Homo sapiens: one gene and its partners. The protein of the gene in region 3 purifies or fractionates together with the protein of the main gene of each other region. This does not show direct contact. Each region holds a gene or a part of one and is shown on either strand. Other genes may lie near its edges.

The links.
Region 1: the proteins of PCYT1A (region 3) and S100A13 fractionate together in Homo sapiens (co-fractionation; one large-scale study listed by BioGRID). This does not show direct contact.
Region 2: the proteins of PCYT1A (region 3) and DIPK2A purify together in Homo sapiens (co-immunoprecipitation; one study listed by IntAct). This does not show direct contact.
Region 4: the proteins of PCYT1A (region 3) and RAB3GAP1 purify together in Homo sapiens (affinity purification with mass spectrometry; one large-scale study listed by BioGRID and IntAct). This does not show direct contact.
Region 5: the proteins of PCYT1A (region 3) and ACOX1 purify together in Homo sapiens (affinity purification with mass spectrometry; one large-scale study listed by BioGRID and IntAct). This does not show direct contact.
Region 6: the proteins of PCYT1A (region 3) and MTMR6 purify together in Homo sapiens (affinity purification with mass spectrometry; one large-scale study listed by BioGRID and IntAct). This does not show direct contact.

The regions. Positions count from the first base shown.
Region 1 is NC_000001.11:153,620,557-153,625,521, reverse strand, and holds part of S100A13 (protein S100-A13), read left to right. Parts: intron 1-4,965. UniProt on the Homo sapiens protein: Plays a role in the export of proteins that lack a signal peptide and are secreted by an alternative pathway. Binds two calcium ions per subunit. Binds one copper ion. Binding of one copper ion does not interfere with calcium binding.
Region 2 is NC_000003.12:143,977,517-143,982,878, forward strand, and holds part of DIPK2A (divergent protein kinase domain 2A isoform a precursor), read left to right. Parts: intron 1-5,362. UniProt on the Homo sapiens protein: May play a role in cardiomyocyte proliferation through paracrine signaling and activation of the PPI3K-AKT-CDK7 signaling cascade.
Region 3 is NC_000003.12:196,280,404-196,285,765, reverse strand, and holds part of PCYT1A (choline-phosphate cytidylyltransferase A), read left to right. Parts: intron 1-2,227; exon of another isoform or gene 2,228-2,291; intron 2,292-5,362. UniProt on the Homo sapiens protein: Catalyzes the key rate-limiting step in the CDP-choline pathway for phosphatidylcholine biosynthesis.
Region 4 is NC_000002.12:135,055,094-135,060,455, reverse strand, and holds part of RAB3GAP1 (rab3 GTPase-activating protein catalytic subunit), read right to left. Parts: intron 2,446-5,362; coding exon 2,370-2,445; intron 1-2,369. UniProt on the Homo sapiens protein: Catalytic subunit of the Rab3 GTPase-activating (Rab3GAP) complex composed of RAB3GAP1 and RAB3GAP2, which has GTPase-activating protein (GAP) activity towards various Rab3 subfamily members (RAB3A, RAB3B, RAB3C and RAB3D), RAB5A and RAB43, and guanine nucleotide exchange factor (GEF) activity towards RAB18.
Region 5 is NC_000017.11:75,968,081-75,973,442, reverse strand, and holds part of ACOX1 (peroxisomal acyl-coenzyme A oxidase 1), read left to right. Parts: intron 1-5,362. UniProt on the Homo sapiens protein: Involved in the initial and rate-limiting step of peroxisomal beta-oxidation of straight-chain saturated and unsaturated very-long-chain fatty acids.
Region 6 is NC_000013.11:25,259,125-25,264,486, reverse strand, and holds part of MTMR6 (phosphatidylinositol-3,5-bisphosphate 3-phosphatase MTMR6), read left to right. Parts: intron 1-2,278; exon of another isoform or gene 2,279-2,474; intron 2,475-2,684; coding exon 2,685-2,819; intron 2,820-3,799; coding exon of another isoform or gene 3,800-3,913; intron 3,914-5,362. UniProt on the Homo sapiens protein: Lipid phosphatase that specifically dephosphorylates the D-3 position of phosphatidylinositol 3-phosphate and phosphatidylinositol 3,5-bisphosphate, generating phosphatidylinositol and phosphatidylinositol 5-phosphate.

The DNA of each region.
Region 1 (4,965 bases), on a different chromosome or scaffold from region 3:
TGCATCTGTGAAGACTCCCTACCCGCTATGGGCATCCCCTTACTAGGGTGTAAGAGTCATTCCTTCTCTCGCACTCACAGGCTGGAGTCAGGTCTTAAATTTCATCGACTCTGGCCTCGAAGAGGCCTGGTCATTCTGGCTGTTGACAGTTTGTTTTACATCCTTTCTGAAAATCCACAGGCACGTTGAAGTGTGTGAATATGGACTCCTTGAACACAGTGAGTCTCTGAAACTCATGGTCTTTCATCTGCAAAATCCCCTACAACTTCCAACTTCTCAGACTTTTTTTTGAGACAGGGTTTCTCACTCTGTTGCCCAGGCCACTGTGCGATCACAGCTCATTGCATCCTTGACCTTCCGGGCTCAGGCAATCCTCCTGCCCCAGCCTCACAAGTAGCTGGGACCACAGGCGCATGCCACACTGCCTGGCTAATTTTTTCTTTTTTTGTGACAGAGTCTCACTCTGTCACCGAGGCTGGAGTGCAATGGTGCGATCTTGGCTCACTGCAACCTCTGCCTCCTGGGTTCAAGTGGTTCTCTTACCTCAGCCTCATGAGTAGCTGGGATTACAGGCAACCGCCACCATGCCTGGATAATTTTTGTATTTTTAGTAGAGACGGGGTTTCACTATGTTGGCCAGGCTGGTTTCGAACTCCTGATCTCAGGTGATCCACCTGCCTCGGCCTCTCAAAGTGCTGGAATTACAGGCGTGAGCCACCGCGCCTGGCCTAATTTTTAAGTTACTTGTAGAGATGTGGTCTCTCTGTGTTTCCCAAGCTGGTCTCAAACTCTAGGCCTCAAGTGATCCTCCTGCATTGGCCTTCCAAAGTGTTGGGATTACAGTCATGAGCCACTGTGCCCAGCCAGACGTTTCCTTTTTCATCTTTTTTACTGGAAACTTCAGGTTCTCTCCTGAAGGGACAGCATTCCTTATATCCTTGTCAAGCAGTGATTGTGGTTTTTTTTTTTTTTTTCCTAAATTCAACTTCCTCTGGGCCTGGAAATGGAGGAAGTGACCTCTCTGCTTTCCATTATCTCTAGATTTTAGTTTCTTCTTCTTTCTAAGACTTCCCAGCGCCTTGGAAGATCATCTGCCACCTGCCATTCTTCTTATTGCGCTCCTTACAGCTCTTCAGCTCCTGGCTCACTGTTTTCTTCTCATCACTGCTTCTGTTGTTATTCTCAGTGGCTTCAGCATCCGCACAGACAATTCATCCAACATCTGGGCCTTTCAATTTTCTCAACTCCTCATTTCCAAAAAGATTTGTCTTCTTACATCTCAGCATCCCACTCCTCTGTTCATGCTTTAGACTGTGTCATTAACAAAATAACGCACAACTTCCAAAATCTTGATTTCAAGTTTCCCTTTATCTGCTGACCTCCTCCTGTCATTCCAGTTCTGTTCCCCTCTCTAGCTTCTCCACTTCAGCACTTCCCTGACTCCTCAGGTACCTTCAGTCTCTCGACCCTCTCACTTTTGCATCTTCCATCAACATCCCTCGGGTCCTCATTGCCCTTCCTCCTCACCTCAGGTTCTAAGGCTTCTAATTGTAATCACTGCCTTAACCCCGTTGATTCTGTCTCTCTCTGTTCTCAACCCAGTTAATCCACCATTTCACCTATAGTAACTTGCCAGTTAAATCCACTGTTCTGCACCTGCACTTGGATAGCTGAATCTGGCTGGAGAAAAATGCATAGCTTTGTTGACTTGTCTCACTTTAAATCTATAACCACAGACCCCAAAAGGGACCCTTGGCAATACCTGGCGGTTCTGTGTTTCCCTGGTTGATTCATTTACCAGTTCTTTCAGATAATTATTTCACAATTTGTCTTCTCTCCTCAAAGCTCAGTACATCTTTCCACGTTCTCCCTTTTCCTGAGAAGTTTACTCACTGAGAAGTTCAGGACTTCGAGACCAGCCTGGCCAACATAGTGAAACCCCATCTCTACTAAAAATATATTTAAAAAATTAGCTGGGCATGGTTGTGTGCGCCTGTAATCCCAGCTACTTGGGAGGCTGAAGCAGGAAAATTGCTTGAACCCAGGAGGCAGAGGTTGCAGGGAGCTGAGATTGCACCACTGCACTCCAGCCTGGGCAACAGAGGGAGACTGTCTCAAAGGAAAAAAAAAAAAAAGGAAACGAAAATAGGAGCAATCAGGAAACTTGTATGTGCTCCCTCCCCGAAATCAGCAGTCTTCTGTTATGCAAATGATACGTCACTGCCCCTAAGGCCAACCCTTCACTGGTGCCCTGGATCCCATCCCCTCTCACCCACTGCACTCCAGTCTGGGTGACCGACAGAGCGAGACTCCGTCTCAAAAAAAAAGACTTTCCTCTTGAAATTACTCCTCTCTTTCTTGTGTCCTCAAATTTTCCTTCTCCACTGTATCGTTCTTACCAGCTTACAACTGATACCTCTTTTTTTTTTTTTGAGACAGAGTCTCACTTTGTTGCCCAGGCTAGAGTGCAATGGCGTGATTACAGTTCACTGCAGCCTCTACCTCCTACGCTCAAGTGATCCTTCCACCTCAGCCTTCTGAGTAGCTGGGACTACAGGCATGTGCCACCATGTCTGGCTAATTTTTTAATTTTTTTGTAGAGACAGGGCCTCTGTACGTGTGCGTGCATGTAATTAGGTAAGCAAAGATACTGTGTGCCAGTGGGAGTATGGGCTTGTATCAGATGATGCTGTTGGGTTCTTGTGTATGTTCTGTGCTTTTCTGGTCTAATTTCCCCAAGACAGGACTGGACCCAGAGCTGGCTTCCAGGAGATTCACAGACCATCACAGCTGGAAGGAGGCCAAGAGAAAACACAGTCCCCATTCCTCACTTCACATATATGGAAACTGAGGCCTAATTTTTAAATGTTTTTGTAGAGGCAGGGCCTCATTATATTGCCCATGCTGGTCTTGAACTCCTAGGCTTAAGTGATCCTCCTGCCCTGGCCTCCCAAAGTGTTGGGATTACAGGCATGAGCCACTATGCCCAGCCCAATCCTTTATTGATGGAAATTTTTCTTATGTCCATTTCTTCCTTCTTGCAAATATCTGTTTGTATACCTACATACTGGTGGAAAAATAACAACATAAGGTAAATGTTTGGCAGTAGAAATATTAGGTTAAGTGGCATGTTCATTTTTAATTTGTTTTTGAGAAAGGATCTTGCTCTTTCACCCAGGCTGGAGTGCAGTGGCATGATCTCGGGTCACTGCAACCTCTGCCTCCCAGGTTCAAGCGATTTTCCTGGCTCAGCCTCCCTGAGTAGCTGGGACTACAGGCTTGTGCCACCACGCCTGGCTAATTTTTGTATTTTTAGTAGAGACGAGGTTTCGCCATGTTGGCCAGGCTGGTCTCGCACTCCTGACTTCAGATGATCTGCCTGCCTCGGCCTCCCAAAGTGCTGGGATTACAGGGGTGAGCCACCGAGACCAGCTTTCATTTTTAATTTTTGTGATTACCAATTTGCCTCCTAAAAAAGTTGTACCAGTTTATATGGCTACCCACACTTCATGCGATGCCTGTGTACTTGTCCAAACTGGGTGTTATTGAGCTTTTACTTTTTGCTAATCTATGATGTGAAAATGATATCTTTTTCTGATTTACGCTTATATAATTCTGAGTGAAATGGAACTTCAATTTTTTTTTTTTTTAATTTTTTTGAGACGAGGTCTCACTCTGTCACCCAGGCTGGGCTGGAGTGCAGTGGTGTGATCTCGGCTCACTGCAACCTCCACCTCTTGGGTTCGAGCGATTCTTGAACCGTGCATCACCATGCCTGGCTGATTTTTGCATTTTTAGTAGAGATGGGGTTTCTTTCTTTCTTTCTTTCTTTTTTTTTTTGAGCAGCAGCAAGATTTATTGCAAAGAGCGAAAGAACAAAGCTTCCACAGTGTGAGAGACCCGAGCGGGTTGCCCGAGATGGGGTTTCATCACGTTGGCCAGGCTGGTCTTGAACGCCTGACCTCGAGTTATCCACCCGCCTTGGCCTCCCAAAGTTCTGGGATTACAGGCATGAGCCACCATGCCCAGCCAGTAACATTTTATAATGTTAAAAAGAATCCTGTAGGCCGGGCGTGGTGGCTCATGCCTGTAATCCCAGACCTTTTGGAGGCTGAGGTGGGTGGATCACCTGAGGTCAGGAGTTTGAGACTAGCCTGGCAAACATGGTGAAACCCCATCTCTACTAAAAATAGAAAAATTAGCAAGGCGTGGTGGTGGGTGCCTATAATCCCAGCTCCTCGGGAGGCTGAGGCAGGAGAATTGCTTGAACCCAGAAGGTGGGGGTTGCAGTGAGCTGAGATCATACTACTGCACGCCAGCCTGGGCGACAGAGTAAGACTCCATCTCAAAAAAAAAAAAAAATCCTGTAGATAGTTTAATTGGGATCATATAAAAGATATATTTTAGGGAAAATCAACATTTTTAGCTGATTGAGCCTTTCTCTTTAAGAAAAATATATGTTTATTCCATTTTCTATTTATTCAAGGTTTTTTTTAATATCCCTGTGGTATAATATGAAATATATAGTTGTCATTTTGTATCCATGGGAATTGTTCCCAGAACCCCCTTGGATGCCAAAATCCTTGGATGCTCAATTACCTTTTTTTGTCCTTTTCTTGTAGAGATGGGTGTCTCACAATGTTGCCCTGGCTGGTCTTGAACTCCTGGGCTCAAGCGATCCTCTCACCTTGGCCTCCCCAAAGTGCTGAGATTGCAGGTGTGAGCCACCATGCCTGGCCTCAAATCCCTTATATAAAATCAGATAGTACTTGCATATAACCTATGCACATCCTCCTGTATACTTTAAATTACAAGTAACTCTAGGTTACTTGTAATACATAATGCAGTGCCTACTCATCACTTCATTCACATGGATTCAACTTAGTACTTAGCATGGGGCAAAATTTAAGTTTTGCTTTTTGGAACTTTGTGGATTTTTTTCTTCAAATATTTTTGGTTCTAGGT
Region 2 (5,362 bases), about 52 Mb from region 3:
CAAGGATCTTGTGAGGCAATAGTGTGCAAAACGATGTTCCAGACTTTGTTTCAGGAGTTTCTTTTCAAACAACAGTTTAAGGAACCACCTACTTCTCCTTTACTGGCTGTTTCTTTAGTAACTGTCTTCCTAGATTTCGGCTTCAGAACACATTAGAGATGGTTCTTAGTAGAGCAGTTTTTAATCTAATAAATTTTGTAAGTTTTTGAACTTTTTGTGGCTTTTCATCTGAGAGTCCATTGACACTTTTGATTGCTCTTCAAGATAATCAAACAAAAATAATAAAACAATTTTGGATACCTCAAGTCCAAAAAGGGGGTGGGGACTTTTATTTTAGAAAGACCCTAGAAACAGACAATCGCCCTTAAGAAAGCATCACTTCAGAATCAGTAGAGCAAAGTCATTTGACATCCTGGACTAGTTTCTGGACATATCCATATCTTTTGACCATTTTGAATTTTGTCCTTTGTATACTTTTGTCTAGTCTTTGAACTATTCTTTATATTTCCATTGCATAGGTTAGCACATATTCTCACACATGTTGGGAAATAGAAAGCTTGTTTTTATAGGTCTTCTGGACATGGGTGTCCAGCTTCTCAGGGGATTGTCAGACTGGTTTTTATTCTGTTTTTTTGGTTTGTGGGCTCTGGCTTACTTCCTATTTTTCTGTCATTGCTGCTGACTCTTCACAGAATGCTATTTTTTTCTTTCTTCAGCTTTCACTCATTACCCATATGTTAAATTATGGCCTTATAATTTAAATCCTGCATTTTTCTAATACATTTGATGAACTTTAGTAAATGGTTGTAACATGACTGAAAATTATTAGTGTAAGGTGAGGTTAGTATAAGGTGATAGGAAGTTGTCTGTGAAATTCTTGAGAGCTCTTTGAATTTATAACCAAAAGAACTGAATTTGTCTGTTCATTTTACAATCTGTTACAAGGCATTTGGATTGAAAGGATGGAAAGATGGCCGTAGGAAACAAGTAGCTTACTATGTAGGAGGTAGGTACACAAATAACTAATTATTATACAATCCATTTAATAAGCCCTGTACAAAAGGTATCTATATCTATCTATCTATCTATATATATATATCTATATCTATATATATATATATATCTATATATATATATATATATCTATATATAGATATATATATATCTATATATATATATATATATACTGTCACATGACTCAGGGAGGGACATCTCATTGTATATTGATAGGAATGGTACCAGGGAAAGTTTCAGAGATTTTGCCAATAGATGGGGGTGGAGAGTGGGAGGAAGGGTGGAGGGGGCAGTATTGATAGAGCATCCATTTCACATTCTGTATTACCACAAAGTTGTTGGATGGTATTGAGCAAGTCACTTAATGTTTCCGATTCTAAGTTTTTTTAATCAGTAAAATGGGGTTGTTAATACTTACCTAACAGGATTGTTTTAAAGATTAAAGAAGAAAGGATTATTCAAGTAATATCTGTTAAATGTTTTCAGTTGTAAAGCTTTTTACAGTGTATTATTTCTTTGAAAATCAGCTTATTCCATTTTTAGACAGCTATAGTAGTTAAAAGTTCTTTAGTACATTATGCTGATGTCTGTCTTAGAAATGTAAAAATCCTACTTTTCTTATTGCAGACATTCAAATGTCACTGTCCTTACATATACGTAAATCATATGTACCTATTCAGGCTATAGTTTTTTAAAAATAGTAGTTTAAAAGGGGATTAGGGATTTGTCTCATATGAAGTGTAATGAATAGAATGAATATGGTAGGAAAGACGGTTTAGATAAGGATTAAGAAGTAAAAGGCAAATAGTTTCTTTTTTTCTCTGTAAATCATTATTATAGTTTAGTAATTCTATTTAGTACATTGGTAAATGGTAGTACAAAAAAACAGGTTAAGTCTAGACCTTAGACTCTGAGACAGAATCTTAAAAGATTTGTAATCTGAAGTAAGTATGATGCTTCAGTGTCTTCGTATTTTTTCTTTCTAATGCTTTTTTGGGGGTTAACTCTGAAATGAAAAGATCTGACAGTAATTATGTGGAATTGGTCAATAGTGCCAGGAACTGATCTGTATATACCCCTGGGACACAGTAAGGGTCAGTTGAGACTAGTAAACTTATGCATATTTAAAACTTGTGAACAAGTGAAGTGTTTTTTGTTTTGTGTTTTTTTTTGGTGGGGGCAGCATTTCTTAAGCAATTTATTCTAAAAGATAATCTATTTCTATTAAATTTAGTTTTTAAAATGTGTTTTGACATCAGTTTCCAATTTTAGATACAGCTGTTGGACATGATATTCAGTAAAATAACACAACCTTACTATTTTCAAGGCATTGTTTAATATTGTTGGAATTTGAGGTGGGTGGAAAATGGCATTCAGAAAATTATTTCATGAAATAAATGGGACATATGCTAGGACTTAAAAATCTTGAAATTGTTAAGCTTCTACAGTATTTGCAATGGATTTTGGCTGCTATTTAGCAGTATAAATTAAGAAGCTAAGATCTTAGAGAAATTTTAGCAAAAATTCAGTAACCATTAAATCATCCCCGTAATTTTACTATATCTCCCCTCCAGACAGTTCACCAAACTGTGAACACATTAGTCTGTCACCAGTACAGTTGACTAATCTTTATGAACAGCTGTTATAACATGCGTTACTACAATGGGATTTCATTCAAATTTGGGCTTTAAAAAATAATTTTAAAACTTAAGTTAGCTCTTTCTTTCTTTTCTTTCTTATGTGTCTGTCTGTCTTTATTTTGATGGAGTCTCTGTCATCCAGGCCGGAGTGCAGTGGCGTGATCTCAGTTCACTGTAACCTCTGCCTCCCGGGTTCAAGCAATTCTCCTGCCTCAGCCTCCCGAGTAGCTGGGATTACAGGTGCTCACCACCACGCCTGGCTAATTTTTGTGTTTTTAGTAGAGACGAGTTTCACCATGTTGGCCAGGCTGGTCTCAAACTCCTGACCTTAGGTGATCTGCCCACTTAGGCCTCCCAAAGTGCTGGGATTATAGGTGTGAAGCCACCGCGCCTGGCCCCTTTAAGCATTTTCTATGCTTTTGATGACATATACTTTCTAAGAGTGTTTTCAAGCTTAAACTTTTTTTTTTTTTGTAGAAATGCCAGTTATGTAGAAAATCGATATTCACATTTTAGATTGTATGTTTTATTAATAGTTTTTTTGAAGTTAGTTTGTTTATACTAAGAACTTTCAAGTTTAACAAAAATCAGTCTTGCATGGTAACACATCTCTTGGTCTGTACTTATTTTCTCTCTTAAGGCAAACTGCAAAGCTATGTTCCTTTTAATGGAATATTATGAGGTAATGAAGTATTATAAAATATTTTATATTGTATAAAAGGAATTTTGATCTTTTAAATTTAGTATACAATATTTTTGGTCATGTAGGAGAAAAAAGAATACAAGCACTTTTAAGTAGACTCTATTTTAATCTATTAGTCTCATGTCATTTATTTTTTGTAAGTAAATAAACAATACCAAAATGTATTCTTTTATGTATCTTTACTCATATATTCCATGTCCACCCTTTTCATGACTGTGTTATGGCATGATAGAATGAAATGGCCTTATTAACCTGGCAGGATGGTGGATATTGATCAAAGGGTTATCGTGATATTTTAAAGGCTTGTTTTTTAGAATAAGGTAAATATACCATAGCATACTGTTTGATTTCAGTATGTAAGATAATCCTGAACATCAAGATTTTGACATGTATTTGTTTTTGCATGGCATACATATAGATGATGCTATAAAGACTGAGTTGAAGATTTCTGTTTGATTCTATAAGTCCCAACATGATCTGGTCCTTGCTTCACTCTCCAGATTCCCTTACCGCAAGTCATTTCCCCATTCATTTCACTGCAGCTGCTTTGGTCTTTTATTCATTTCTGAGAAGATACTTTCAGGCTTTTCATGTGCCTGAACTGCCCCATCTCCAGTCTGCTTAATATTAAACTCATCCTTTAGGTCTCAGCCTGGGTGGAGATCACTTAGGTTAAATAATCAATCTTAACATTATTTTTCCAGCATAATGTTGGCTTCTGGAATGCTCTTATGTAATATATAAACCGTTACCTTTATAAAATCTGAAAAATTCTTAAACAGATGATAAATAAGCAAAAACAAAAACAGAAACAAAAACAAAACAAAAAATAAACCCAAAAAAACCACCCCAAACTAATAAAGTTTAACTTCAACAAAAGGATATTGGCTTGAGGGAGGTTGTGTTAATCTATCTTTTGAATTCATTTTGACTGTTGTAAAGATAATTATAGCTTGGCCTAAATTTGCTTCTTACTACCTGTGTGACTTTAGGTAAATCGTTTAACACTGTACTAATAAGATTGAACTGGATTTACAATTGAGGTACAGTTAAACTCTAAATTTCTTGGATTTTACATTTCCTTTATTGATCACATAAAATATTTGATTTTGATCTAGGTAGATTATTAGGTTATTTCAGCATTTGGAATTTGTTTTGTGCTTATCAGTAATAAAAAACAAGTTAAAATACTGTGTTTTTGTGTGTACACGTTTCCAATTTTTAAGTTTCTTGCATTTTTAGTGCTTGTGGATGCTCTCTACGTTTCTTATAGCATCAGTGCTTTTAAGAGTTTAGTGACTAGTCTATATATTTCATTATGAATTAGAAATTACTAGAGGTCAGTAAAGATGTTTCTCTAATTTAGTGGTTCTTCACTCTATTTGGAAGGGGGTTCATTATTTGTAGATGCCGTTTTAGTAGGTGTTTAGGAGGTGCATGAAGATAAGCATATCTTTTGATGAATGTCTGGAATTGTTACTTAAAATTTTTAAATAGAGAAAGCCCATCAGACTAACAGCAGATCTCTCTGCAGAAACCCTGTAAGCCAGAAGAGAGTGGGGACCAATATTCAACATTCTTAAAGGAAAGAATTTTCAACCTAGAATTTCATATCCAGCCAAATTAAGCTTCATAAGCGAAGGAGAAATAAAATCCTTTCCAGACAAGCAAATGCTGAGAGATTTTGTCACCACCAGGCCTGCCTTACAAGACCTCCTGAAGGAAGCCCTGAATATGGAAAGGAAAAAACAGTACAAGCCATTGCAAAAACATACCAATTGTAAAGATGATTGACACTATGAAGAAACAGCATCAACTAATGAGCAAAATAACCAGCTAGCATCATAATGACAGGATCAAATTCACACATAACAATATTAACCTTAAATGTAAATTGGCTAAATGTCCCAATTAAAAGACACAGACTGGCAAATTGGATAGTTAGAACCCACCAGTGTGCTGTATTCAGGAGACCCATCTCACATGCAAAGACACACATGAAACA
Region 3 (5,362 bases):
GAGAAAGAAAGGGGGACAAAATGATGACACTCGCAGTGTCAATAATGGTGATTGGGATGCCACATGGGAGAGACTTCAATGTACTTAGCTCTCTAATTCAATGATTTGTACACTGAGGCCAAGCCTGGCATGCTAGGAATGATACCACACTATGGGTAATGTAAATGAAGCTTTAGCTGCTGACTTTATTTCCTACACATTCCCTTTCTTTAGGGCTGTGAGTGATGTAGATGAAATTAAAGTGAATGTTACTACTTCCTTCTCTCTTACAGCCCTTTTTATTTTATTTATTTATTTATTTATTTTTGAGACAGAGTCTCACTCTGTTGCCCAGGCTGGAGTGTGCTGGCACGATCCCAGCTCGCTGCAACCTCCGCCTCCTGGTTCAAAGCGATTCTCCTACCTCAGCCTCCTGAATAGCTGGGACTACAGGCATGTGCCACCATGCCTGGCTAATTTTTGTATTTTTAGTAGAGACAGGGTTTCACCACGTTGGCCAGGCTGGTCTCAAACTTCCGAGCTTAGGTGATCTACTAACCTCAGCCTCCCAAAGTGCTGGGATTACAGGTGTGACCACCACGCCTGGCCTTACAGCTCTTTTTAGAAGGTGCTATTGATTGTGCCACCAGTGCTTTTTATAATAGGAGAAGTATGAGGTCATTTAATTTATCGTACAGTGTATTAATCTGATAACCACTCCTGCCCCCTACACTCTGTAATAGGGGAATAGAGTTCAGATAGGTTCTTGAATGGGAATGAGTTGAGAATGGTGGGGGATAGCCTTTTCTTGGCTAAATAAATTGGTTAGTTACACCTTTTTCTAGCACATTAGATGTTTACTTGACTTACATTCTACATAGCTAAAAGGAACTACCCAGGGGTTTCTTCTAGAACAGCATCTATGCTTCAAGGTAACAGACTGTGGAAGAGGCTTGGGATTCAGCAGTACTCCCTCTAGGGTCTTTTTTCTTTGCTGAATGAAATGAATCTTTTTGTAGGACAAAAGATTTGCTTTGCAAATTCCCTTTGAAAACTAGCATGATGGCCTGGTTGATAAAGAATGAGCTTCATTCCCCCTCAGTCTATGACTCTCCTCCCATAAGCAGTGGGGTTTTATTTTCCCTGGGGACCTGCTTTTTGGATATGTGATCCCTTAAGAAGAATGACCTCGTCAGATAGAGCCTGGACTTAGCAGTCCCTGGTGACTTTCTCCGATGTTAACATTTACTCGCCCTGTGACTATGTATGGAAAGCATTATTGCTTTCTCTTGTTGTAGATTTTCTAACCATGGCCAGAGGTAACTCTTCTTATGATTAAACAGCCCTTTAATAATCTGAAATATATGTGAACTTACCAAATTTTGTATGTAATTTCATAGAGTTTGTAAACCATCTGACTCCATTTATAATTCAGAGCTGTCTGGCCTTTAAGTTAGACAGTATTTCCCTAGGGAGCTGAATAACCTCTCCTAGAGATGTTATAAGTGCTGATGAGAATTAGTTTTTGAAATGCTCAAATAAAAAGCATAATTTTCCATTGTTATTAATGATGGATAATAGCAAAATATCTGCTAATAATAGTAGAGTTCTTACTTAAGCATCATGCTTTTCTAAGTATTTACATAACTGATCTGAAGCAGACCTTCTGATTTTTCTACTAATAGAAATTTCCCTTTCTGAATCAAGCAGAAATAGGTCTCCCTTACATCAAAGTTTGTGTTACCTTGAAATAGATTGGAAAGAATACATTTTTGTAAAAGTCATTTTTTTCTTGGATTTGTTTCCAGTTGGAGAAACCCTAAAGTCAGGGCACTTGCCAATTATCACAGGACTGTGAGAGTCCCTTTTTTGCTCAAGATTGTGGCTGGCTGCTTGTACATCTTTGACATTATCACACATCAAGCATATTAGAAAAAGGGGTGACTTGGGAGAGTGAGGGGATCAGCACTTTAGGCCTTGTCAACCCTCCTGCTTATCTGCTTGGCAGCTTCTGGCATCTCCTTTTCCCTAAGTCCTTGAACCTCTTTCCTAAGCGTAAACCTTTCTGTTTTTAGTCCTAAACCTCTCTTTTCACAGTATTCCTGTCAAATGAGTACTTAAACACATGTTTCATCTGTGATTTGTTTTGTTAATTGCTTTGTGGATTATTTGTGGCAGAATTTAAATCCTAATTCCTTTCTACAATTTAGCCAGTAAATTCAAGGAATGTACCTTTTTACGTTTGCAGCATGTGCCGAAGCGCCACCTCAGAAGATAAAAAGAAATGAGTCTCATATTTGGCATTCTTTTAGGTTTGTTACCTACCTTATTCATTAATGTAAATAATTGAATTACCTGTATTTTACCATTCGTAAACCAGGTTAATAGATATATATTAATAGCAGGCTTTCTGTGTGTGTCTTTTCCCTCCTTTCTTTCTATTTATTTATTTATTTATTTTTTGAGACCAAGTCTTGCCTTGTTGCCCAGGCTAGAATGCAGTGGTGCAATCTTAGCTCACTGCAAACTCTGCCTCCTGGGTTCAAGCGATCTCCTGCCTCAGCTGGGATTACAGGTGCCCGCCACCACGCCCAGCTAATTTTTGTATTTTAGTAGAGACGGGGTTTCATCATGTGGGCCAGGCTGGTCTTAAACTCCAGACCTCAAGTGATCCATCCGCCTCGGCCTCCCAAAGTGTTGGGATTACAGGCGTGAGCCACTGTGCCTTGCCCCTTGCTTTCTTTTGGGAATTCTCTTGTACCACAAGTTGAAAGTTATATTAGTTTGAGGCTTTCTATGTTTGGACTAGGATGACTGCCAGTGAGCCAGGGGAACCCATGAATCTGCTAGGCTGTTATATCACATTCACAACTACTTGCAAACCAGTTTTGAAGTGAAGGCTGCCAAAAATAATGACATATGGTCCCTGCTCTATAGAAAATGAGCATATGACCCTTAATAAAAAACAGGTAGTTTTTTTATATACAGAAAATTACCCTAAATGTGATTATGTTTCTTTATTTTTTGACCGTAGAACAGGAATCTTAATCTTTTTTGTGTTATGGACTCCTTTGGCAGTGTGGTGAAAGCTTTTAGAGTTCCTTTTTGGAATATGTTTTTATATGCAAAAATAAAATACATAGAACTATAAAGAAAACCAGTTATATTGAATTATATTGATATATAGTTATCAAAATTTAAGAAGTATGATATGGTATGAAAATATCCATGATTTCTACTGGTAACAAATCCATTTGTCTAATAAGTCTGCTATTACTGCTGTAGCTTATGTTCATCACTGAAGTGAAAATAAAGATACAGTCTTTTTCATCCAAATTCACAGACTTCCTGAATTCTATCATAGACCCTGCCTCAGAGATATGAGTTCCATAACCCACTCTAGGAAGATCACATTCTAAACACAAGAGTTTACTCACCAAATATTCTGGTAGAATAGTGGCAGAGTAAAATTGTTCAACTGTAAGAACTATTACATGTGTCCCTCATGGTTTTTTCTTTCCTGAAATATTCTACTACATGTCCAGGCCGAAGAAGTATAAGCTTTATTATGTGTGCCAGTGGCTAACCCAGGGTCTGGCACAGAGTAAGTGCCGCTCAGTGTTTGTTGAATAAGGGTTTCTCTGACGAAATTAGAGGGAAGAGATCCAGTTCAAAGCTAAGGTCTTAAATGTGACAGTTTATAGGGCTCATGACAAGTAACGTTGAACTTTAGTTTAGAACTAATCTGTCAGAGAAGCTCATGTTTTGAAATTCACTTTTACATTTATAAGTTCTCAGCCTGGTGTGATAGTTCATACCTATAATCCCAGCACTTTGGGAGGCTGAGGTGGGAGGATTGCTTGAGGCCAGGAGTTTGAGACCAACCTGGGCAGCAAAGTGAGACCCCCATCTCTACAAAAAATTAGCTGGGTGTAGTGGCATGTGCCTGTAGTCCTAGCTACTTGGGAGGGTGAGGCAGGAGGATCACTTAAGCCCAGCAGTTCGAGGCTGCAGTGAGCCATGATTGCACCACTGTACTCGAAATAATTCTATTTCTAACACTGTTTTTCACTTTAGATTGGGTAAATTTAGGTAGAATTTGCCACCAAATTATTAATAAAGCTGGTCCTGATTTCATCTAGGATGAGAGGTAGCAAACTTTTTCAGTAACGGGCCAGATTGTAAATAGTTTAGGGTTTGCAGGTCACACAGTATCTGTGACTACTCAGCTCTGCTGTTGTAGCACAAAAGCAGCCATGGACAATAAACACATCAGTGAGTGAACATGGCTGTGTTCTGATCGAATTTTAATTACAAAAACAGGTAGTGGGCCATCTTTGGCCAGCTAGCTGTAGTTTGCTGACCCCTGATCTAGATTTTCTGGTTCTTGAGTCCAGCTCTTTTCCCTACTTTCGCTTAGCCATATACTCCTTCAAGCTTCAAAGGCCTTTACATAGGGGGCAATGTCCTTACACTGTTATCTCCAGAAAGACCTGAGTGTACAGCAAGATGATAGGATTAATGAATGCCAGGAATATTAGATGCACTTTAACCCTTGAGTTTCCAGAGCTTGCCTCTTAGAGCACCAGCTCATTAAGCACCACCACGGTAGAAGCAGAGAAACATCCCAAATGTAAAGTCTGCTTGCGCACTCGGCTTTGGAACTGGGCATTGATATGCTGATAGAAAAATACTGGGCATTGGGTTTTAGTGGGGAAGATAATGTAGGCCTAGAGATGGGGAAGGCAGGAATAGAGTGCAAAGGAAAAATTATGCCTCATCTTTTTGCAAATAGTTCCTTGTAGTAATTGGTCAAGTTTGAGTTAGATTTTTGAAATGTGGAATAGCATATGTAATTGCAACTTGCTACTACAAGAGCTCACCCTTAGTCGCAGTTTTACTTTCCGTGGTTTCAGTTACCCACAGTCAGCCACGGTCAGAAAATAGGTGAGTATGATGTAGTAAGATATTTTGAGAGTGAGAGAGAACAGCCACATTCAGATAACATTTATTACAGTATATTGTTATAATTGTTTTATTATTAGTTATTCCTGTTAATCTCTTACTGTGCTTAATTTATAAATAAAACTTTATCATAGCTCTGTGTATATAGGGAGAAAACAAAGTAGAGTCAGCCCTTCGTGGCCATGGGCTCCACATCCGCAGATTCAGCCAAACTTGGATCGAAAATATTCAGAAAAAAAAAAAAAAAAAAACAATAAAAATACCAATACAACAATAAAAAACAGTACAAATAAAAAACCAATATTGTATAATAACTGGTTACATAGTATTTACATTGTATTAGGTGTTGTAAGTAATGTAGAGAAGATTGAAAGTATATAGGGGGTATAGATTATATGCAAATTCGACACCGTTTTAT
Region 4 (5,362 bases), on a different chromosome or scaffold from region 3:
ACCCCGTCTCTACTAAAAAATACAAAAAATTAGCCAGGTGTGGTGGCGGGTGCCTGTAGTCGCAGCCACTTGGGAGGCTGAGGCAGGAGAATCTCTTGAACCCGGGAGGTGGAGGTTGCGGTGAGCTGAGATCATGTCACTGCACTTCAGCCTGGGCAACAGAGCGAGACTCGGTCTCAAAAAAAAAAAAAAAAAAAAATCAAGCAGTTAAGTTTTGTCCATTACAATGTATATAAATCTTACCCAAAAAAAAACTATTAAAAAAATCTAGTGGAGGTAGGGGAGTAAACAGAGGTACCACTCAAACAAGAAATGGCAAAGTATTAATTGTTGACATTAAGTGATGGGTACATGGGAGTTCATTATACTATTCTGTTTACTTCATATATGTTTGAAATTTTCCATAATTAAAGGTTTTTAATAAATAATTTCCCTTAATTCCCCCTCAGTGGAGGAGAAAATTAATAATCACTGTCCTTCATATAAGTTAAAATCTTCAAAGGAAGTCTCTAAACTTTGTTTTCTACACCAAACAATCCCTGTCCTCTACACTTTCTTCATATTCATCATAGTTACAGCTCACCTTGAAATCTGCCCATATTTTCTGTATCTTATTTATGTACTACTATCTAGTAGGGAGAAACAGACTGGAGCTATGACTTCATTAGCCTCTACTACATGCCTGGCAGTATGCTACCTACTTTAAATAACTACCCACTTAAATCCCAAAACTGAATTTAGCATCTAAAACTTTAACCCTTAGAGTGACTTTAGTTAACACTAATTGACTGTACATTTCAAAATAGCTAAAAGAGAGTAACTTGCATGTTCTTAGCATAAAGATAAATATTTAAGGGTTCCCAAGTACCCTGATTTGATTATATGCATGTATCAAATTATCACATGTACCCCAAAATATGTACATCTATCATATATCAATTTAAAAAATAATAATAAAATAAAATTTTAATGTTTCTTTACTGATCACCCTCACTAGAATTTATGTTCAATGGCAACACTGATCTTATCTTGTTCACAATTTCTTCACATCAGGCACATAGCAGGTACTCAGTAAATACATGTAAATCAAAGAATGAAAGAATATCAGAGCTCATAAGTACCCGGTTTAGCTCTCTTCTTAGTAGTGTAAATCATTTCCTATTCTAGCTATATCCAGCTTATTTTGCCTCTAATCTTATTGGCATCTATATCAATTGTTATGTATTTGTTTCAAGTGGAGTAGAATGACCCGTGTTTGAAAGCGTCACATTTTCTTTATTCACACATGTAGTGTAGTAAATCAATGTATATATTGCCAAGAGTCTTTGAATGATGTATTTTTTATATGTGGTCTTACTTTTTCTGTTCATATTGATACAAATAAGGAGATTTTTTTTCCTTAAGAGACAGGGTCTCACCATGTTGCCTGGCTTCCTAATGCATTTTGACAGTCTCTTTTTTGATAGTATCACCATCACAAAGCTGAAAACCCCTAGCAAATATTGAGAACTCAAAGTTCCTAACACAGGGTAAATTATAATTAAATTACTATTGAATTAATAATTACTGAGTTAATAAGTTATCACTGAGTTAGTAATATTGAGTTGTAATAAAACCAACCATAAATTTTATTTCAAAAGAATTTATCTAACAAACTAAGCATCTACATAAACTTAAAATCAAATTGTTAGATCCCTTCACAGTGAATCCAGGTTTGTTCTCAGAGTACATTCTTCAGTAAACATTTGGGGTGTGGTTTATGAATAAAACTACCAATACTTTAGATTAGAATTTGATTTCTACCTCAATTTCAAAGAGTAATTTTTTCATTCTTAAATAAAATCCTTAAAACATCCATAAGTTAAAAAGCTTAAAAGGGAAGGGGGATGTTATTAGTGATATTATAAAATACAAAAACTGAGTGAAATAGTTGTTAACTACAGTAAGTCAATGGTAAGTACTAGAATTTTCCTCATTAGTAAGCAAAATATGCTACCAAAGAAGATGGTCACTGCAATGTTTCTCTGACCAAATAAAAAACTTTTAAAAACATGTTTTAACATTCCAAGGGAGAAGGCAAAAGAGAAGCAAACTTCACTCACAAAGAATCACTCACAAAGAATGACATTTTATATATATATATATACACACACACATATATATAACTTTATTAAACATTTCACAAATGTCTTACATATATCATTTGCCACAGATTTAAATCCAAATTCTTCCAAATGCTATTTGATGTTTATAGATTATACGTAACTTTAAAAAACATTTAATTCAAATGTGCCAAATGCAGCAAAGGGCTGGAAAATAGAGGTTTCAAAGTAAATAGTCATTTAGAGACACCAGCAAATAGATCTGACCTTTTCGAGTGGCTTTCCCAAAGAGTTTCCAATCAGTTTCCAGTCATTCAAGACTTCTTCAACTTTGGAAATAAACCTAGGAAGTAGGGAGAAAGCTTCTAAATACAACAGCACACCTTTTTTCCTATTATTATGTAATTTCTTTAAAAAGGTATTTTTTATATTTTAACAATTTGACCAGAGAGGACTCAGTACATTTAGTATTGCTAGCTTAATTTATGGATATGGGGTAAGAGAAATAATCTTCTTTCATTCAAGAATTCTTAGGTTTTGATTCATTTATATCTATTGCTTACCCAACAAAAGCATTCTGCCTTCTATAAAATGTAAATTAAGAATTGATGAATCTCTAATAAAACGAATAAAACAAATTTGGGGCACAAATAAAAACTGACAGACTAAAATGATACTATTAAAGATAATTATGGGCTGGGTGCAGTGGCTCATGCCTGTAATTCCAGCCCTTTGAATTCCTAACCCTGAGGTTGGGAGTTCAAGACCAGCCCAGCACAAATACAAAAAAAATTAGCCCGGTGTGGTGGCACACATCTGTAATCCCAGCTACGCAGGAGGCTGAGGCACAAAAATCACATAGAAGCGGACGTTGCAGTGAGCGGACATCGCGCCACTGCACGCCAGCCTGGGCGACAGAGTGAGATTCCATCTCAAAAATAAATAAATAAATAAAATTATGAAACCAATCATCTCTCTCCTACCCACAATAACTGACCTATTTAAATAAACTTTTCCTTTAAATATATTAGGAATTCCGATTTACCCCCCCAGCCCCCAACAAAAAAAGAAAATATTATTTGGTAACTTGGTTCATGAAACTAAAACAAGTTTTAATGGACAGCTGACAAGAAATTGCAAGTAAATATGTCAACTTTAAGTATAAGTGACAGGTCTTAAAACTAGTCACCAATCTTTAAATCCAATGGTCAAGAAGGCCTATTAAAAAGAGAACTGAATTTTGAGTAGCAACATGCTCAACATCAGTAAATGAAAACTGTCAAGTCTCAGTCAAAGACATTTTCAGAAGAATTATTCTTACTCTAAGTTGACTTCTTATATAAGCTAAGTATGATGCAATCTAACAGCAACATTGCTCTCTAAACACCTGGAAGTACTGCTAGAGTACTAGAGTTAATTCTAGTCAAACTGTATGGAAAGGCAACAGATTTTTTCCTTCAGTGACATTATGAACTAATATGAACTAATAATTATGTTTTAAGATAGTAATAATAAATCTATGATTCATCTGAGGCTTCTTACTAATTCCTCTTTAAAATTAAATGCAGTATCAATTCATACACTAATTCATGGGGGAGGTCAGTCAAATGACAATTACTAGGTTTGAAAATCAGTGCTCTAGAAACAAGTTTACATGTTTACCAAAGAGGAAAAATTTAATATATCCACAGGCAAGCAAAAATTTGCATGAAATGTATACTATATTTACGAAGCTAAAAAAACTGGAAGTTACCTTAATGCCCAACTGCAGGAAATACTTGTAAATTAATCCACTCAGAGGACTAATATGCACCCAATAAAAATCATGTCAATCAAAAGAAAATATACAAAGGCCAGGCACAGCGGCTCACGCGTGTAATCCCAGCACTTTGGGAGCTGAGGCGGGTGGATCACGAGGTCAGGAGTTCAAGACCAGTTTGTCCAAGATGGTGAAACCCCGTCTCTACTGAAAATACAACAAAAATTAGCCAGGCGCGGTGGCAGGCACCTGTAATCCCAGCTACTCAGGAGGCTGATGCAGGAGAATTGGTTGAACCCAGGTGGCAGAGGTTGCAGTGAGCCAAGACTGCACCACTGCACCCCAGCCTGGGCAACAGAGTGAGACTCTGTCTCAAAATAAAAAAGAAAAGAAAAAGAAAAAGAAATATTAATATTTGATCCAAAAAAGTTTTTAACACACGTTAGAAGGAAATATGTCGGCCGGGCGTGGTGGCTCATGCCTGTAATCCCAGCACTTTGGGAGGCCGAGGCGGGCGGATCATGAGGTCAGGAGATCGAGACCATCCTGGCTAACACAGTGAAACCCCGCCACTACTAAAAATACAAAAAATTAGCCGGGCGTGGTGGCGGGCACCTGTAGTCCCAGCTACTTGGGAGGCTGAGGCAGGAGAATGGCGTAAACCTGGGAGGCAGAGCTTGCAGTGAGCCGAGATCGCGCCACTGCACTCCAGCCTGGGCGACAGAGCGAGACTCCGTCTCAAAAAAAGAAAAAAAAAGGAAATATGTCAAAAAATTAACAGCAGTTATTTCCTGGTGTTAAGTTTACAGGTGATTTTTATTTTTTATTCTACTATAAGGTATTACTATTATAGTGAAAACTATTTAAAATATAGTTTTTACAGTAAAAGAAGAAATGTCTTTTTTTTTTTTTTTTTGAGACAGGGTCTCAACTCTGTCACCCAGGCTGGAATGCAGTGGTGTAATCACAGCTCACTGCAGTTCTGTCCTCCAGGACTCAAGCAATCCTCCCATCTCAGCCTCCTGACTAGCTGGGACTACAGGTGCACATCACCATGCCCAGCTAGCTTTTGTATTTTTAGTAGAGACAAGGTTTCGCCATGCTGCCCCAGCTCCTCTTGAACTCCTGAGCTCAAGTGATCTGCCTGCCTCAGCCTCTCTAAGTGCTGGGATTACAGGCATGAGCCACCATGCCCGGCCAGGAATGTCTTAAAATACTTATTGTATGAATAATGAATTCTATCAGTACTAGCTAAGAGACTTGGACTTTATCCTACAAGTATTGAGATTTGACTAGAAAAACTAAGTAATTTTTTCCTTAAAAGCTCTCAGGAAATGAAGGGTCATTTCCTGATTCCTTATTCTATATTAGGTCCCTCTGTTATAGGCTCTTATAAGACCAGGTTTCTTTCCCTTTCTAGCTCTTACATAAACTCATAATTACAGACTTGTATTACTTGATTTGTGTCTGTAATGCACTAGACTGCACATTTAGTAAAAGC
Region 5 (5,362 bases), on a different chromosome or scaffold from region 3:
CTATAAACGTCATTCACTGTTATTTCCTAAAGCCTTTTATTATTGAACAGCTTGAAAAGATGGGGTTTACAGTGCAGCGGGGAACCCCATTATGTTACTCTGGGTCTAATGAGTAAAGACTTTGTTGGAAATTCTTCAGAGGGTTAGTGCCTCAGCAATATCTGGAAAGCGCCTCTCTGCTCTAATGCAGTTAAAGCTGTGGATTTTAATGGGGGCAGCAGGCAGTGGCAGCTACCTGTCTCATCTCATTGCCCACTAGCAGGGTTATAAGGCAGTTTGGAAAAAAGTCCATGATTCTCTTCATCTGACTTCAGTCTTTTTAGACATTTTTTCCCCTACATGTCTGGGAACTCTTGTGTTGCCAGTAATTCTTTGTTAAATTGTTCCTAAATATCTGGCTTCCTTCAAAAAGTTTTGCTTTTGATCTTAATGTGAAATAGGTTTGTTTTCATAGACAAGGCCATTGGCAGGTTTGAGTGTTTGGAATTTGAACTGCCCAGCCTCATGTCTAATTATCAAAATGGCAGGAGTAAAGAAAGGGAAAGAAAAAGGGATGCAGATATCAGGGAAACATCATTTTGTGTTTGATTGCTGATTTCAGTGTGTGAATTGGTTTAAGGAAAATGTTATTTATTGTCATCTCCATGGGTACTGCAGCTTTCTGGTCATGGTTTGATGTTCCAGACACTTTACTAAACACTCAAGACTTCAACTTCAAGATGGTCAGTACTGAAATTATAAGCCTGAAAGAAAGGTTTGTAAAGGAAGATAAGATTCTTTTTTTTTTTTTTTTTTTTGAGACAGAGTTTTGCTTTTTTTGCCCAGGCTGGAGTGCAATGGCATGATCTCAGCTCACTGCAACCTCCGCCTCTGGGTTCAAGTGACTCTCCTGCCCGAGCCTCCCGAGTAGCTGGAATTACAGGTGCTCACCACCACGCCCGGCTGATTTTGTATTTTTAGTAGAGACGTGGTTTCTCCATGTTGGCCAGGCTGGTCTTTAACTCCTGACCTCAGGTGATCTGTCCACCTTGGCTTCCCAAAGTGCTGGGATTACAGGCTACAGGCGTGAGCCACCGCGCCTGGCTGACAGATCCTTCCTTTTTTTTTTTTTTTTTGGAGACAGAGTCTCACTCTGTCGCCCAGGCTGGAGTGCAGTTGTGCCATCTCGGCTCGGTGCAAGCTCCGCCTCCTGGGTTCACGCCATTCTCCTGCCTCAGCTCCTCAGTAGCTGGGACTACAGGTGCCCGCCACCACGCCCGGCTAATTTTTTGTATTTTAGTAGAGACGGGGTTTCACCGTGTAAGCCAGGATGGTCTTGATCTCCTGACCTCGTGATCTGCCCTCCCAAAGTCCTGGGATTACAAGGCATGAGCCACTGCACCCGGCCTGAGAGATAAGATTCTTTATGTAGTCCTCCTCGCTTGGAGTATCTGTGTGTTTGTGTACATGCATGCGTGGTGTGTGTGTGTGTTGTAATTTTGAAGTAGCTTTGTGGTACAGAACTCTGTTTCAGTATTCATCATTATAGAATTTATTCGACTTAACAGTCATGCTGTTCATAGGAGGCATAAGATGTGAAATAGTCTGAGGCTAATGGATTTGTTAAGTATACCTCTTACCTCTTGTTGGTCTAATGCTTCTGCCTCATTTATAAAGTAATATCACAAATATATATTTGCCCTAATTTTTTTTTTTTTTTTTGAGTCAGAGTCTCATCCTGTGCCCCAGGCTGAAGTGCAGTGGAGTGATCTCAGCTCACTGCAACCTCCACCTCCTGGGTTCAAGGGATTCTCCTGCCTCAGCCTCCTGAGTAGCTGGGATTACAGGCACCTGCCACCATGCCCGGCTAATTTTGTTATTTTTAGTAGAGATGGGGTTTGGCCATTTTGGCCAGGCTGGTCTCAAACTCCTTACCTCAGGTGATCCACCTGTCTCAGCCTCCCAAAGTGCTGGGATTACAGGTGTGAGTCACCACGCCCGGCCTGCCCTAATTTTTGAAAGGAGAGAGGAAGAAAGGAAGACTTGAACTATACTGGTTTGAGGCAAACAGAAGTTGGACAGAGATCCTATATGGCTGTGGGCAAGTTTGCATTTGTTAGAGTTTTCGTTCCCTTATTGCTTTTAGTTTTGGGTATTTTTTTTTTTTTTTTTGAGACAGAGTTTTGCTCTTGTTGCCCAGGCTGGAGTGCAATGGCGCGATCTCGGCTCCCCGCAACCTCCGCCTCCCAGGTTCAAGTGATTCTCCTGCCTCTCCCTCCCTAGTAGCTGGGATTAGAGGCGTGTGCCACCATGCCCGGCTAATTTTGTATTTTCAGTAGAGACGGGGTTTCTCCATGTTGGTCAGGCTGGTCTCGAACTCCCGACCTTAGGTGATCTGCCCGCCTCGGCCTCCCAAAGTGCTGGGATTATAGGCGTGAGCCATCATGCCCAGCTAGTTTTGGGTATTTTCTTGTATTTAAACCAACGTTGTCTTAATCTCTGTGGTTTAGAGAACAGTGTCCTAAGATTAGTCTTTTTTCTTGCTGGAATTTTGCTAATTCATATTGCTGTTCTTGGTTGATGACTGATCTTTTCCTTGGAAATAAGTCAGGTTGGTTAATTTGCATCACGTGACGGTTTTATCTTATATGGAATACACAAAAAGTCAACGTCCAGGAGATCGGCAATAGAGCAGCTTATATAGAATGAGATCTAACTATTTAAATTCTGAGACTTTGGAAAATGGATCAACAGTGAACAGTGATTATCTAACGCGGTCTCACAGAAGTAGCTGTAACTTTGGGTTTGGGATTCTTTCACTTCTGGGTAGCTGCTGAGAAGTGAAGGGGCTCAGAAGTATTCAGGTTCACTCCATGTTCCTTCCAAATCCTAAAATTCAGTCACCTACAGAAAGTCTCAGTCACCAGCATTATCCTTCTTTCTAGAGTGTGTCTTCTTTCCTCTAAGGACACGAAGAAACTCGGATATACACCTGCCCTGTGGGTCTGGGAGCCATAATCAAAGGCAGAGGCCTGAACCTGGGTGATAGGCTCACCTCCCTGGAGTTCTGGGATCAAAGGAACAGCCTGGGGAACTGGGTCCATGTTATCATCCTGACCATATGTTTCTTTAGGCCACAAAACAGGTCGTTTGTTTGCTCTTCACAGATATGTAATCATTTCAAGATGTGGCCATTTCTGGAGATTCTTCTTGCTTTGTTTTCCTTGTTTGCTTGCTTGCTCACTTCCTTCCTTCCTTCCTCTTTTTTTTTTTTTTTTTGAAGGAGTCTCATGTTGCCCAAGCTGGAGTGGTGCAATGGTACAATCTCGGCTCACTGCAACCTCCACCTCCCCCTGGTTGAAGTGATTCTCCTGCCTCAGCCTCCTGAGTAGCTGGGATCACAGGTGTGCACCACCATACCTGGCTAATATTTATATTTTTAGTAGAGACAGGGTTTCACCATGTTGGCCAGGCTGGTCTTGAACTCCTGACCTCAGGCGATCTGCCCACCTCGGCCTCCCAAAGTGCTGGGATTAGAAGTGTAAGCCACTGCACCCGGCCTCTTTCTCGCTCTCTTTCTGTCTTCTTCCCTTCCTCCATTCCTTTCGTTCCTTTCTTTCTTTATTCCTCACCCATGGACTGGGGTCACATTGCCTTGTTTCGTATTACCATCTATTTAGGAATATAGAGATTGTATGATACATAGTTATCCTTGAAGCTGATGCAGTATCCTGGCAAATTGCCATCATTAACACTTAAATATGAAATAATGCACCTTTCTTTGAAACTGGAAAGAGGTAGTAAACTTGATTTTTAAGTCATCAGTCTTTACCGCACTCCGTTGCCCTCTCTCCCTAGGCTTAACAGTCTCCTCTTCCCTCTGCCCAAGTGATTCTCTTCCCTGTTGGACTTCTCATGAGACTTGCTTCCCTGGGGATTTGGGCTAAATTTCACCAATATTAGTGATAATAATATAAACTTTATGAAAGCTGTGTTCTGGCCAGGCACGGTGGCTCACGCCTGTAATCCCAGCACTTTGGGAGGCCAGCGTGGGTGGATCACCTGAGGTCGGGAGTTCGAGACCAGCCTGACCAACATGGAGAAACCCCGTCCGTACTAAAAATACAAAATTACCTGGGTGTGATGGTGCGTGCCTGTAATCCCAGCTACTAGGGAGGCTGAGGCAGGAGAAGCTTTTGAACCTGGGAGGTGGAAGTTGTGGTGAGCTGAGATTGCGCCATTGCGCTCTAGCCTGGGTAACAACAGTGAGACTCCGTCTCAAAAAATAAATAAATAAATAAATAAATAAGACGCTGTATTCTTTGGGGTCATACTTCTGGAATACCTCTCAGAAATGAATTACTATATTGAGGGACATGAGCATTTTAGAGCTTTTGCTGCATAGTTTGAGGCTTTTCCTGAAACACAGAACCAGTTGACAATATATTGAGCAAGCTCTGTACCTGTATTTCCACAGCTCCATCAACGTGGTCACTTTAATTTATTTTGCTACTTTAACATATTTCTTTTTTTTTTTTTTTGAGACGGAGTTTTGCTCTTGTTGCTCAGGCTGGAGTGCAGTGGCGTGATCTCGGCTCACCGCAACTTCCGCCTCCCGCATTCAAGCGATTCTCCTCCCTCGGCCTCCTGAGTAGCTGGGATTACAGGCATGCGCCACCACGCCCGGCTACTTTTGTATTTTTAGTAGAGACGGGGTTTCTCCATGTTGGTCAGGCTGGTCTTGAACTCCTGACCTCAGGTGATCCGCCCGCTTCAGCCTCCCAAAGTGCTGGGATTACAGGCATGAGCCACTGCACATGGCCTACTTTAATATATTTCTTTTTTTTTTTTTTTTTTTCAGGCGGAGTCTCGCTTTGTCGCCCAGGCTGGAGTGCAGTGGCATGATCTCCGCTCGCTGCAAGCTCCGCCTCCTGGGTTCACGCTATTCTCCTGCCTCAGCCCCCTGAGTAGCTGGTACTACTGGCACCCTCCACCATGCCCGGCTAACTTTTTTTTTTTTTTTTTTTTGAGACGGAGTCTCGCTCTGTCGCCCAGGCTGGAGTGCAGTGGCGGGATCTCGGCTCACTGCAAGCTCCACCTCCCGGGTTCACGCCATTCTCCTGCCTCAGCCTCCCAAGTAGCTGGGACTACAGGCGCCCGCCACTACGCCCGGCTAATTTTTTGTATTTTTAGTAGAGACGGGGTTTCACCGTTTTAGCCAGGATGGTCTCGATCTCCTGACCTCGTGATCCGCCCGCCTCGGCCTCCCAAAGTGCTGGGATTACAGGCGTGAGCCACTGCACTTGGCCTACTTTAATATATTTCTAACACTTAATGTTTTAATTTCCCATTACTAGTAAGCCTGGATGTTATTACGTGTTTT
Region 6 (5,362 bases), on a different chromosome or scaffold from region 3:
CACTGCGCCCTGCTTGTTCTGAAATTTCACAGTAATGTCCTTTTAAATCTCATCCAGAAACTCAGGTCTCAATTTTGGGAATTTGCTTCTCTATTTCTTTGATAATTTCCTCTGTTCTATTAATTTTCTTTGTCCTTTTTATTTATTAGTTGACAATTGGGCTTTGTAGAATAAACTTCTACTTTTTTAAAAACTTTCTCCTTTATTTTTCATTTTTTTTTTTGGATTTTCTGGAAGATTTCCTCAACCTCATCTCCAGTCTGTGTCTTAGATCCTTTTTTTGCTGTGGTGTTTTTAATATCTGAGAGCTTTTCCTATTTTCTGAAATTTTTAAAGATGGTTTTCTATTCCTGGATGTGATGTTTTAGTTCTTTGAGGATGTTAAAGATTTAAAAAAATAATTCTCATGCTTCCCACATTAGTTATTGTTTTGCTCAGAGTTCCATTTTTTTCTATTTATTTAGTGTTTTTGTCTTTCATGTCTTTCAAATACCTGTTTCTTGGCTGAGTTCTCATATTCAAGCTGTTTTGAAGTTTGTGTGCAGGAATGGTTTGTATCTTGGGATTCTTTCTTTGTTTTCTTTTTTCTTTTTTCTTCTTTGAGACAAGGTCTCGCTTTGTTTCCCAGGCTGGAGTGCAGTGGCACAATCTCGGCTCACTGCAACCTCCGCCTCCTGGGTTCCAGTGATTCTCCTGCCTCAGACTCCCAAGTAGCTGGGATTACAGGCATGTGCCACCATGCCTGGCTAATTTTTATATTTTTAGTAGAGATTGGGTTTCACCATTTGGCCAGGATGGTTTCGAACTCCTGACCTCAGGTGATCCACCGGCCTCGGCCTCCCAAAGTGCTGGGATTGCAGGTGTGAGCCACCGTGCCTGGCTTTGGGATTCTTTCTGTTGTATAAGTTGGTTTCCTTAAAGAACAAACCTCTAATTTTGGTCCCAATGTGTATAGTAAGTCTGGCCATGATCCAAGGGTGAGAAGAGTGATGTCAGGATTTCACATTTTGTTATGTAGACTTTACTTAATGCTCCTAGTCTTTGTGAGTATAGGGCTTCACCCCTGCCCACAGCTGTGTCTATTGTCTATAGAGTCTTCAGGTTCATCCTTATCATGGAATAAACTTTGTCTTCAAGGTAAGGGAGAATCTGGTGGTCTTAGCTAGTTCTCGTACAGGCATTCAAGCAGTTCTCCTTTTTTTCAGTTATATACCTGCTCAAGCCTTCAGAGGTTTTGAGCCTTTTGAGATTTTGCTGCACAAAATACCTTGCTTCTTACTGACTTAAGGGAGTTAGCAGCTTTCTTTGTCCTGTAAAATTGGTTATCACTTGCTAGTCAGCTGTCATCTCCCCAAATTTTATTGACATCTCTATGTCTTTTTTCCCATTCTCTTTGTCCCTGTGGTTTTATGCATTTTAACTTTCTTTATTCGAACCTGACTTGGATTTTGGGAAGGAGCAGAGGCAAAGGGGTAAGGGTTTAGACAGAAGTTTCTAATCTGCTTTTCACAACTAAATCACAGAGAGGTTAAATGGTTATGGCCTCTCTTGACACAGCCATATGTGTAAACATTGTTTATTGGAAAGTTGGGCTGAAAATAGTTATTCTGTGAACAACTTAACAAATCAGAAAGTAGGTCTGAAAAGAATTTAATAAGGCAATGTTCATTTTCTACTGTTTTATCATATTTTCGTGGTTTTATTTTGTGAGTTTAAAATATGCAATTGTGTGAATTTGCATGTATTTTTGTTTTCCATTGGAGAAAAAGTATATGGATCTAAATCTTTTAAATCTTTTTTTAGGACTTTAAACAATAGTAGGCTGGGCATGATGGCTTATGCCTGTAATCCCAGCATGCTGGGAGGTGAGGTGGGCAGATCGCTTGAGCCCAGGAGTTGACAACCAGCCTGGGCAACATGGCAAAAACCCATCTTAACAAAAAATACAAAAATTAGTCAGGCGTGGTGGTGTGTTCCTGTAGTCCCAGCTACCCTGGAGGCTGAGTTGGAAGGATTGCTTGAGCCCAGGAGGTCAAGGCTGCAATGAGCTGTGATCACGCCACTGCATTCCAAACTGGGTGACAGAGCAAGACCTTGTCTCAAAAACCAACCAGCCAAACAAAAAACAGTAAATAATGAATCCAACCACTCACTACTTATAGATAATTCTTGCTCTATTCGATTGACTGTATTTTAACTCAAATTTGAATTGAAGGTCATTTTTCTCATTTTATATTAAGATTGCCGATTTCTAATTAGAGATCTTAAAACCTTTAGAAAGTAAAAGTTCCAGTGTTGCTACTTAAAAATTCTTGTTCTATTTTTATTGACTAATCTTTTACTTGAACTTCAGTTGGAAGGATCCTGTAATCTAAATGGAGCGCAGAATGAAGATAACAGTAGGTTACTTCACAGAGAATTGACTGGGTGTTATTTCTTAGGACCCAGGTTTCTTCATCAAACTAGATAAGGAGGTATTTAGTTTTCTTATGAGAATAGAATATTGGGAAAACTTAGGAATGTCAAAATATTGAAATAGTATTTAATTCAAAGAGGATCTTAAAGTTAATGCCTCCTAATTATCATATTTGATTTTAACACTTTTGGCTTTTTTTTCTTGTAAGCATCTTTAAAGACATTTTAGAGATCTTTGCATAATCTCTTTTCTGTCCTTTAAAAAATAGGCTGCCATTTGTCGATGTAGTCAGCCACTCTCTGGATTCAGTGCCAGGTGCCTGGAGGATGAACATTTGCTTCAAGCCATTAGTAAAGCCAATCCAGTCAATCGCTATATGTACGTCATGGATACCAGGCCAAAAGTATGTATTTTAAATACAGTACAGTCTGCTAGTTTAATTATTTTTATTACTTTACTTAATGAGAGTTAATAAACTTGCCCATATTTAAAATATCTGAATCCTAGTTTTAAATTAACTAAGGCTAATGATACTAAGGAAATCAATCCTTTATTTAAAGGATACCAATTTAGAAAACCAATTTCTGAGTAACTCATGGTGATTTCTTACATCTTCTGATATATATAAATTCAGGAAAGCTGAATTGTATATTGAGAACTCTTGCTAGTATATAAGTCTTATGTTATTGTGAAGAAATAATAAAATGTGTGTTATGAAAAATAAATTGTTACTATTCTTTTTTTTTTTTTTTTTTTTTTTTTTTTTTAAGACAGAGTTGCACTCTGTCACCCTGGAGTGCAGTGGTGTGATCTCGGCTCACTGCAACCTCTGCCTCCCAGTTCAAGCAATTCTCCTGCTTCAGCCTCCTGAGTAGCTGGTATTACAGGCACGTACCACCATGCCTGGCTAATTTTTTGTATTTTTAGTAGAGATGGGGTTTCACCATGTTGACCAGGCTGGTCTCGAACTCCTGGCCTCAAGTGATCCGCCCACCTCAGTTGGCCTCCCAAAGTGTTGAGATTACAGGCATGAGCCACTGCGCCCAGCCTAAATTCTTATTATTCTTTTTTGAAGAATTTTCAATTGACAAAACATTTTTATGCTAAAATAATGGATTTTAGCTTGAAATTTTCAAGAAAATAAGGAAAACAGTTAACTTAGGAAACATTGAACTAGAGAATTTTAAATAGTGAACAGGAATTTGGGTTATCTTAGGCATCTTGTGTGCTATGGGGCCAAATTTTTATCATTGGGACAAATTTCAGAGTCCCTTCTTCTTTTTATTAACATAGTTAAACAACCAGTTCATATAGGATCCTGAAACTAAAATAATTAAAATCCTCAGTGGTAATAGCTAACGTTACTTTTAATTTTTGTTATAGCGTCGCATGCAGAGCTGGTGGGCTACACAAAAGGACATTGGCAGAATTATAGTGAGGATTTCTTCAAAAATCCAGAATGATGAGAAAATAAGAGAAAGCAATGAGAAAAAGCGAGTGAGCAATATAGAACGCAAGTGGTTTTTAGGCAGCTTTGTGAAAGGAATGGTCACTATTTTAGAAGTGATTCTCATCATTATGCAATTTCACAAAAGATAATTTAGAAACCAGAAGAAGAGATTAATTTGAGTAAATTGTACTTTGGGAGGCCACGGCGGGTGGATCACCTGAGGTCAGGAGTTTGAGACCAGTCTGACCAACATGGAGAAACTCTGTCTGTACTAAAAATACATAATTAGCCGGGCATGGTGGTGAATGCCTGTAATCCCAGCTACTCGGGAGGCTGAGGCAGGAGAATCACTTGAACCTGGGAGGCGGAGGTTGTGGTGAGCCGAGATCACGCCATGGCACTCCAGCCTGGGCAACAAGAGCGAAACTCCGTCTCAAAAAAAAAAAAAAGAATTATCTGGCTGGACATGGTGGCTCACACCTGTAATCCCAGCACTTTGGAAGGCTAAGGTGGGTAGATCACCTGAGGTCAGGAGTTTGAGACCAGCCTGGCCAACATGGCAAAACCCCGTCTCTACTAAAAATACAAAAAATTAGCTGGGTGCGATGGCAGGCGCCTGTAATCCCAGCTACTTGGGAGGCTGAGGCAGGAGAATTGCTTGAACCCAGGAGGCAGAGGTTGCAGTGAGCCGAGATTGTGCCATTGCACTCCAGACTGGGTGACAAAAAAAAAATTAATAATTATTTAAAAATAGAAATTGATAACTTGATAATCTTTTATTAAAAATAAAAGACTTTATTAGGAGTTGAGAGTGTTGGTGATATCTCATAAGAAAAATTCTGGAACACTTTTTTGATAATATTAGATATAAAAGGCGATTGTAATATGAGACTTTTTGAAGATGAGGTCTGATACAGTGATTTGTTTTTCAGGACCTCATAGTTCTTATTTGTATAATTATCTTCTTCACAGAAAATATATCATTCTTTGATTGTTTTACTAGTTAAATGTAACTCAAGTAGTAATAATGTGGAAGCATTTTTTAACATCTAACTGTAGATTTTACTTTAGGTACCGAATAACTAGTGAGTCAGTAGGATACAATTTAACTGTACTTGTTACCAAACTGAGGTCCAATCCACAAAATGAAGAGCTCCTTTTCTTCTAATTTAGGCTTCGTTTTATCCACGTTCATAAGAATTTTTAATAAATTGTGTTAACATACTATATGAAATCCTAGCCTGGAAGAATTAAGCATGACAAATCCTAAGGGACCACTGACAACATTTTGATCTAATAGCTAAAGACCATGGGCATATGAGCAATCTGTTTTTTCCTGGAGACCAGTTTATTTTTGGCCCAATTCTCAGAGATGTATCAGGATAGCCGATTATATGCCATATTATATGATGTATGGGCCTCCAATAATCTCTCATATAATCTCCCTCAAGTAATCTGAAGCATATTTCAGATCTGATTTTCAGGTCCCTATGGCT